3 separate regions of the Homo sapiens genome follow, and regions 2 and 3 are each linked to region 1. The links come from fine-mapping of genetic effects on gene expression. A gene starts in region 1. Each other region holds a variant in brackets. All regions are shown on one strand. Distances are between the middles of the regions. Region 1 holds the start of DPP3-DT (DPP3 divergent transcript). Region 2 overlaps SLC29A2 (solute carrier family 29 member 2). Region 3 has its middle 7.8 kb from the start of MRPL11.

What was found. PIP is the estimated chance that this variant, and not a neighbour inherited with it, causes the effect.
Region 2: its variant is the best candidate, but not a certain one, in a credible set for the expression of DPP3-DT in skeletal muscle (GTEx, PIP 0.88).
Region 3: its variant is the best candidate, but not a certain one, in a credible set for the expression of DPP3-DT in thyroid (GTEx, PIP 0.68).

What each region holds. Positions count from the first base shown.
Region 1 is chr11:66,478,993-66,481,744 of GRCh38, reverse strand. DPP3-DT (DPP3 divergent transcript) reads left to right here and starts at 1,496. Exons shown (of 4, transcript NR_120586.1): 1 at 1,496-1,706. DPP3 (dipeptidyl peptidase 3) reads right to left here and starts at 1,311. Exons shown (of 18, transcript NM_130443.4): 1 at 1,280-1,311. RefSeq lists enhancers at 1,172-1,341, 1,918-2,485 and a silencer at 1,482-1,531.
Region 2 is chr11:66,361,699-66,364,450 of GRCh38, reverse strand. It overlaps SLC29A2 (solute carrier family 29 member 2), which reads left to right. Exons shown (of 12, transcript NM_001532.3): 11 at 27-226; 12 at 904-1,930. The coding sequence ends at 1,015. It overlaps B4GAT1-DT (B4GAT1 divergent transcript), which reads right to left. Exons shown (of 2, transcript NR_135761.1): 2 at 687-1,182. Among named protein-coding and RNA genes, the nearest start is that of SLC29A2, 8.7 kb to the left of the region's middle. The variant T/C (reference allele first, on the strand shown) is at 1,186.
Region 3 is chr11:66,429,657-66,432,408 of GRCh38, reverse strand. No RefSeq gene overlaps it. Among named protein-coding and RNA genes, the nearest start is that of MRPL11, 7.8 kb to the left of the region's middle. The variant C/G (reference allele first, on the strand shown) is at 1,472.

The DNA of each region.
Region 1 (2,752 bases):
ACCCAGGAGGTGGAGGCTGCAGTGAGCTGAGACCGCACCATTGCACTCCAGCCTGGGCAACAGAGTGAGACTCCACCTCAAAAAAAAAAAAATTGATTGACTCTAACTACCTAGTATTACAGATGGGGAAACTGAGGTTCAGAGAGGCTAAGAGCCTTGCCTAATCCCACAATGGAGACATCAGCAGCAGAGATCCTCATCTCTAGGCTCCCAGCCCAGGCCCCTCCCTGCTTCCTTGTTCAGTATTATTTTTTTAAGACGGAGTCTCACTTAGTTGCCCAGGCTGGAGTGCAGTGGCATGATCTTGACTCACTGCAACCTCCGCCTCCCGGGTTCAAGCGATTCTCCTGCCTCAGCCTCCAAAGTAGTTGGGACTACAGGCGTGCATCACCATGCCCAGCTAATTTTTTGTATTTTTGATAGAGACGGGGTCTCGCTATTTTGTCCAGGCTGGTCTCGAACTCCTGGCCTCAAGCGATCTGCTTGCCTTGGCCTCCCAAAGTGCTGGGATTACAGGCGTGAGCCACCGCGCCTGGCCTTTGTTCAGAATTCTTTACACTTTCCACTGTGCTCACAAGGATAAAGTGCCAGGCCGCCAGCTGGAAGGCTCAGCCTTTAGCCAGGACTCGGCCCCAGACTCCTAAAAGTCAAGTCCATTGCTTCACTTTTCTGTACCTCCGTTTCCTCCTCTATAAAAGAGAGAATAACCCCAATATTACCAGGTGGGTGCGCTAATCAGATGAAGTCGCCCTGGACGGAAAGTATCCACAGCAATAAATGATTTTGCTTGAAACTGTCCCATTCTCATCCCTCTAAATGCCTTTTCCTTGGCCCTCCATTCTCCTGCTCGCTCCCTGTGCTCCACCAGGGAAGCCACAGAAGTTCACAACCAGAAGAAAGCCCATTTTACAGATAGGGAAACTGAGGCTTGGAAAGGGCAACAATTTACTGAAGGTCTGACAGCCCCGTTGGAACCCGGGGATTCCCCAACCCGGGGCATTCTCCCCGCCACGCCCCGTCCCGGCTGGGACAGAGTGTCCAGCCTCCTCGCCCTGCCCCGGCCTCCAGAAGCCCCGCCCCAATAGCACAGCCTCGAGGTTCGGAAAGGGCTGTTAACTCTTTGCTCCCCGGAGCACTCCTTGGCCTCGAGGGCGGGGTGAATTTGGAGGGGGTACTGGAGAGTGGGCAGAAAGGGAACGATTTTGCGCTCAGTATGGATTCGCCTTGGTCCCCCGGGATGACACGCTTTGACCCCAAAAGCCCAGGCGCCGCGCCTCACCTGCAGCAGCTGCTCCGTTCGCAAACTCACTTCCTGCTTCCGGCTCCCCCATTCATTGGGGCTCTGCGAACCCCGCCCCCCTTGGCCAACTGCCTGGCCTCGGGGTCCGGATGGGCGTCAGTACCAGCCAATAGACGCGCCAAGACGAGCTTCTCGGCTCGCCCGCTCCCGCCCCCAGGCGCTACGGGGTGGCGCGCGGATTGGCCCTGCGGGCTCGGCCTTTTGTCAGCAGGCCGCACACGCGCCGGACCGGGTACCGCTGTGCCCGGCCTGGCCGCGGCCTAGTCCCGGCAGACGGGACTGACGAGGTCACCAAGCCCAGGCCGAGACGGCGCGGGTGTCAGGGACTTGGGAATCCCCCTCCCCCAGTCCCGATCCCGCTTTCCTTTGGGGTTTCACCTCAGAGGACCCGACAGCACTCTTGCAGGTGGGAACCTACACAATAGGAGTAATGTGGCTCCACCTTCCTCTCGGGACTCGGGACCTGGGGGTGGAGACTTGGAAGTTGCAAAGCTCTCGGTGCCGGGAATCGGGGCTACGGTTGAGTGGGATCGGGCCAGGGCTGAGGTGGTCCCACCCGTGTAGGGGCGCGGAGAAACGCCTCGACTGCTTCACTGTACCACCACCCACCCGCCACGGGCCTGGAAGGAGCCGCTAAACATTCCCGAGCCTCAGTTTCCTTAGCACAAACAGGCTGGTAGTTTCCTGGTGCTTGCCAGATGCCTGATGGATGAGAAAGCCTCCTGCGGCCCCGAAAGGGAGTCCAGAGCAGAGGCGGGCCCGCGGTCCACTTTTACAGGTCTGGACGGACTCACGGGACCACGGTCTGGGTGGGGCATGCGGAAGGGCCTAGGCCAAATGGGGAGTAGTGGTGAGGGCCCAGGGTCAGACTGGGGGGTGGAGTGAGGTTGTCTGGGAGTCTTGGCTTTATGAACCGGAAAACCAGGCTAATAATTGAATCCAATCCAAGGGATATTGTAAGTTGTGATGTGTTGACTGCAGTGCCGCTCCCTATAGTTGCGCAGGGTGAGGGGCGTTTGGGTACTGAAATCCCGCACGGTCTCCTTGCTACGCCCGTGTCTAGGCCAGACAGCCTCTGCTTACCATAGACACCAGTTTCTCATCCACAAAGGTGCCCAAGGCCCTGCTTGACACAACAGTGTTACAAGCTGTTAGCTTTGATGATTACTTGTTATATGGGGGAGTTCAACAAGTTGGTCGGTGTCCTTAGGAAAGTCACCCCTCTTCTTTCCTGTGCCTCCGTTTTCATTGTCTTTAAAATGGGTATAAAGTTGGCTGACAGGTGAAGTTGAAATGTGCACAGGTAAGGGAGGTAGTGCTGCCCACTGCCAGCAGGGGGCAGCTCAGGCAAGGAAAAGACCCCAGTGCTCTCAGGACCCCCCAACCAGCTACGTGATCACATTTTTATGATCACAGATAAGATGAGCATATACTGAGGTCCCTTGCTAGCAG
Region 2 (2,752 bases), 120 kb after region 1:
CATGCTGACTTCAGCTTCTACCACAGCCAGACGAGGACAGCCGGCTGCTGCCCCTGCTGGTCTGCCTGCGGTTCCTGTTCGTGCCCCTCTTCATGCTGTGCCACGTGCCCCAGAGGTCCCGGCTGCCCATCCTCTTCCCACAGGATGCCTACTTCATCACCTTCATGCTGCTCTTTGCCGTTTCTAATGGCTACCTGGTGTCCCTCACCATGTGCCTGGCGCCCAGGTCCGGGGCAATGGGGTGGGGTGGGGGGCTGGGAGTAGGGAGGTGGGTTCAGTCTTTGGGAAGGGACCGCCTGCAATGGAGGGACGGCCCATCCTGCTTCTGGCCAGCCCAACCCTAGCTGTCTGCAGGCCTTGCTGGCGCCCCCTACTGGGCCAAGCCTTAACTGCAGGGGAGAGAACTGGGCTAGGGAGGTACCCGCCCAACCAAGTAGCCCAGGCACTGGTTCTGGGGCCGCCTCAATGTGCCTCAGTTTCCCCATCTGTAAAAAAAAATGGGTTGAACTGTCATCCCTCAGGGCCCATCTAACTGTAAAATTCTCAGTTGAAGGAGAGCTAAGGTTTTGACCAAAAACAAGGTCATGGGCTATTTCCTCAAGGGGCAATGGAGTGGAGAATCCAGAGAGAATGAAGCTGGCAGGGCAGACAGGCTGAGAGCACTGTGGAAAGGGCAGGCTGTGGAATCTGGAATCCCATCATGTTAGACTCAGAGGCCCTGAGAGACATCCTTATCCAGCAGCCTCATTTACAGACCAGGAAACTGAGGCCCGGAAAGAAGGGGCCAGTTATGGTGACAGAGGGGTTGGGTCAGAGCCCAGACTGGATGGGCAGAGGGCAGTGGAGCTGGGTCCAGATTTAGACCCAGCATTTTCTAAGAGCTCCTGTTCCCGGGTGTTCTAGGCAGGTGCTGCCACACGAGAGGGAGGTGGCCGGCGCCCTCATGACCTTCTTCCTGGCCCTGGGACTTTCCTGTGGAGCCTCCCTCTCCTTCCTCTTCAAGGCGCTGCTCTGAAGTGGCCCCTCCAGGCTCTTTGGCAGCCTCTTCTCGACGTCTCCTTCCGGAGCTGAGATCCAGCCCAGGGCGAATGGCGAGCTTGGCTCAGGCCTCTGCGGGGTGGAGGCCCCTGGGCCTGAGGCTGCCAGCAGCGGGCAGGAGCTGCTCTTCATCCACTTGGAGTGCTG[T/C]GGGGAAGAAATCACCACCGGTCATTCTAACCCTCACCCAGGAATGGGGGTGACTCGCACAAGACCTCATGGAAAGGGTGATGACTAGGGAAAAGAGGGTGCAGGGCACGGCTGCTCCCCACCACCAGGTCTGCATTTGTTCATCATCATCAGGAGCAGAGGTGACCAGAGGGTTCAGAGTGGGAGGCGGGGCCAGCCCAGGCCAGGAGCGCCTCATCTTCCCAGGCCTCAGCCACCCAGGGTAAAAGGTGCCAGGGAAGTTGTGGGCACCTGAGAGGAGGAACAGATGTGGAGGACCTGAGGGTGCTCAAAGGGCCAGGCTCAGCCTCAAGCAGTGTTTTCATTGCCAACACTTACTGTACCCACTCCGCAGAGCCCAGCTGGGCCTGGGCCCCAGGGCCACAGCTAGCCTGCATGTGTGTACTGCACTTTACAGTTTGCAAAGCTCTTCCATACCCACTCTCTCACCGAAGCCTAATTGAGGCTCTTGGAAGGAGTCAGGCAAGGATTGTGCTTCCCCCATTATACAGGTGACAAAACTGAGTCCTGGGGAAAGTGACTGGTCCGTGGTAGAGCCGGGACCCAATCCCCTCTCTCTCCTCCCTGTTGGTGCTGTTCTTCCTGCCCAACACCTGTTTCTCTTTTCCTCAAGGGGTTTGGGGCAGGAGCCTGGGCACTTACTCCCCGTTTTTGCTGTTTCTCCTTCTGACCCTGCTCTTGGGTCTAATAACCCCATTTATTTGTATGATGCGTTCACCAAGTCTTTATTTCCGAAGTGCTGTTGGCTCTATTGGCCTCAGTGAACTGGGTGGGGTCGGAAAGATTGTACCCCCTTGACAGGTGGGATGACTGAGGCCCTGAGAGGGGTAGGGATTGGTGGGCATCTCTGTGCTGGGTCCTCTGGACCACATGATAGCTGGGGGGTACTGACCTGCAAGGAATCCTGAGCTCCTGGGCAGAGCACCTAGTTGGATGGACAACTATTGCTCTCCCACTCCATGAGCCCCTGGGCTCTCACCAGCATCCTCTGCCTCCCCAGGATAGCTCCTCCTTGGAAATCTGGCCTTAGAGAGGCAGTCAGTGTGGGCAGGGCTTTGGCGACCCCACCAATTCTACACACGGATGGAGGAAAGGCCTGCTTCACCACACACCTATACTACCCTGCCCGTCCCAGAGAAAAGCAAGGGTTTTCTGCCCACCTGCCTTTGTGAACATTCACTGAGCACCTATTAGATATTAGGTGCTCAGCCAGCACAGGGTACCTGCTCAGAAGCCAGGGGCTTTTTGGCATCAAGGAGGAAGACAGGCAAGATATGACCTTGGTTGCTGAAATAAGCCACAGGGCAGACCCCAAGGAAGGATTCATTCCTTTGAGCACTGTTCACAGACAGCTGCCCCGAGCCAGGCCCTGCCTGGTCTGGAGACTTTGAAACAAAGGAGACACAGTCCCCGCTCCCAAGGCCACAGGAAGCCAAATATAACTTGTGATACGTCTTGTGAGGGCCCTGCAGAAGCATGTCGAGGGAGCCACTGATTCCACCTGAGAAGTCAGGGCAGCCATTCCAGA
Region 3 (2,752 bases), 49 kb after region 1:
ACAAGAGCGAAATTCCATCTCAAAAAAAAAGGAAAACAAAAACAAAACTTTCTTATCCATTTTTCCATCTTTTTCTCTATTTTTTTTTCTTTTGAGACACTCTGTCACCTAGGCTGGAGTGCAATGGCACAATCTCGGCTTACTGCAAGCTCCACCTCCCAGGTTCAAGCAGTTCTCCTGCCTCAGCCTCCAGAGTAGCTGGGACTACAGGTGCGCACCAACACGCCTAGCTAATTTTTGTATTTTAGTAGAGATGGGGTTTCACCATATTGGCCAGGCTGGTCTTGAACTCCTGACCTCGTGATCCGCCCAGGCTCCCAAAGTGCTGAGATTACAGGCGTGAGCCACCGTGACCAGGCAGTTTTTTCTAAGTAAACAACAACCCTTCACTCACTCACTAAAGTCAGAAACAGGAGACTTCTCTTTTCCTCACCCCCATTTGAAATCCATTAGCAAATCCTGTCAGTTCTGCCTCTGAAGCATTCCAAAGCCAGTCACTCACCTCCGCCTGGACTTGAGGGAAGCACTTGGGTGTGAGTTCTCGTCCTATTTGCCTGGATCACTGCAGAAGCCTAAACTGGTCTCTGCTTCTCCTCCTACCTCATTCAATCCATTCTCCACACAACTTTCAGTGGGATGGCTTAAAAATGTGAATTATATGTCGTTCTCTCACTTAAATTTCCCCAGAGGATTCCTATTGCACATGAAATAAAATCTAAGTTTCTTATCCTGGTCCAAAGGCCCTGGGTAATCTTCCTTCTCTCCAGCCACTCTTCCCCTTGCCACACTGACTTCTTTCCTATTCCTTAAACAGGTCAATCCTTTCCCATTTTGATACCCTTAGTTTTGCTTTTCTTTGACCTGGAGCACTCTTCTTCCTCTTTCCTTCCTTCTTTCCTTCTTTCCTTCCTTCCTTCCTTTCTTCCTTCCTTTTCTCTTTCTCTCTCTCCTCTCTTTTCTTTCTTTCTTTCTTTTTTCTTTCTTTCTTTTTCTTTCTTTCCTTCTTCTTTCCTTTTCTTTCTTTCTCTCATTCTGTCACCCAGGCTGGAGTGCAGTGGCACAATCTCAGCTCACTGCAACCTCTGCCTCCTGTGTTCAAGTGATTCTCCTGCCTCAGCCTCCCGAGTAGCTGGGACTACAGGCGCCCGCCACCACGCCCGGCTAATTTTTTATATTTTTAGTAGAGACGGAGTTTCACCGTGTTAGCCAGGATGGTCTTGATATCCTGACCTCGTGATCCGCCCGCTTCTGCCTCCCAAAGTCCAAAGTGCTGGGATTACAGGGGTGAGCCACAGCGCCCGGACTTTTTTTTTTTTTTTTTTTTTTTTTTTTGAGACGACGTCTCACTCTTGTCACCCAGGCTGGAGTGCAGTGGTGTAAGTGCAATCAAGGCTCACTGCAGCCTCGCCCTTCTGGGCTCAGGTGATCTTCCCACCTCAGCCTTTTGGGTAGCTGGGACTACAGGTGCACA[C/G]CACCACACCTGGCTAACTTTTTGCTTTTTTTTTTTTTTTTTTTTTTTTTTTGTAGAGACGGGGTTTTGCCTTGTTGCCCAGGCTGGTTTCAAACTCCTGGACTCAAGCTATCCACCTGCTTCAGTCTCCCAAAGTGCTAGGATTACAGGCACAAGCCACCGTGCCCGGCCTCTTCTTCTTTCTTATCTTTTAGGTCTTAGCTCAATGTCACCTTAGAAGAGCTTTCTGATGCCACATTCTAAATTAGCACCCCCTCCTCAGTTCCGCTCGGCCACAGTACACAGGTTCTTTCTTTCACTGCACGCACTGCATGCTCCCTTTAAAGAGTTATTTTACTTTTTGTTACGTCTCCCCACAACTTCAGTGTAAGGTCTGTGAGTCCAGGGACCTTGTCTGTCTTGTTCAGTTTTCCCCAGGACCCAGCAAAGCCCTTGGCGCATGTAGGTGTCATAAGTGTTTATCACATGCAAAATGAAGTGCCAGAGCCAATATTTGACCTCAGTCTTTGTGACTCCAAAACTTCAGCCCTTTCTCATACCTTTTTGCTCCCAGGGCAGCAACCTGGTGTTGGTGGCAAGGGTGCTTGAGAGTCAGATTTGGCTTCTGCAGCCACTTTGGAAGTGCCATTGGGCAATTCCTTTCTTCTCTCTGGGCCTCAGTTTACCCATCTATTCTAAGATGCAATATTGTTGATGCTCTGAGCCACAGGGACCGTGCCAGGGAAGGGAACAGAAGCAGATGGTTCTATGTCCAGCAGGGGGCGCAATGGGCTCGCTCAACTTCTTTCTCCGCATGGGTCGACGGCCTGGCTCTCCAGTTCTGAGTGTCAGGGTGCCTTCTTGTCCACACACACTCTACCATCTCCTGTCACTGCCACCAAATACCAGGGAGGGGTTTCTTTTTTTCTTCCATAATTTTTACCTTTTAAAGTTGTGGGGCGGCTGGGCATGGTGGCTCACGCCTGTAATCCCAGCACTTTAGGAGGCTGAAGCTGGTAGATCACGAGGTCAAGAGATTGAGAGAAGCTTGGCCAACATGGTGAAACCCCGTCTCTACTAAAAATAGAAAAATTAGCCAGGCGTGGTGTCATGCGCCTGGAATCCCAGCTACCCAGGAGGCTGAGGCAGGAGAATCGCTGGAACCCGGGAGGCAGAGGCTGTAGTGAGCCGAGATCGTGCCACTGCACTCCAGCCTGGGCAACAGAGCAAGACTCCATATCAAAAAATAAAAAATAAAAAAAGTTATGGGGCTTTTTTGTTTTGTTTTTTTTTTTGTTTTTT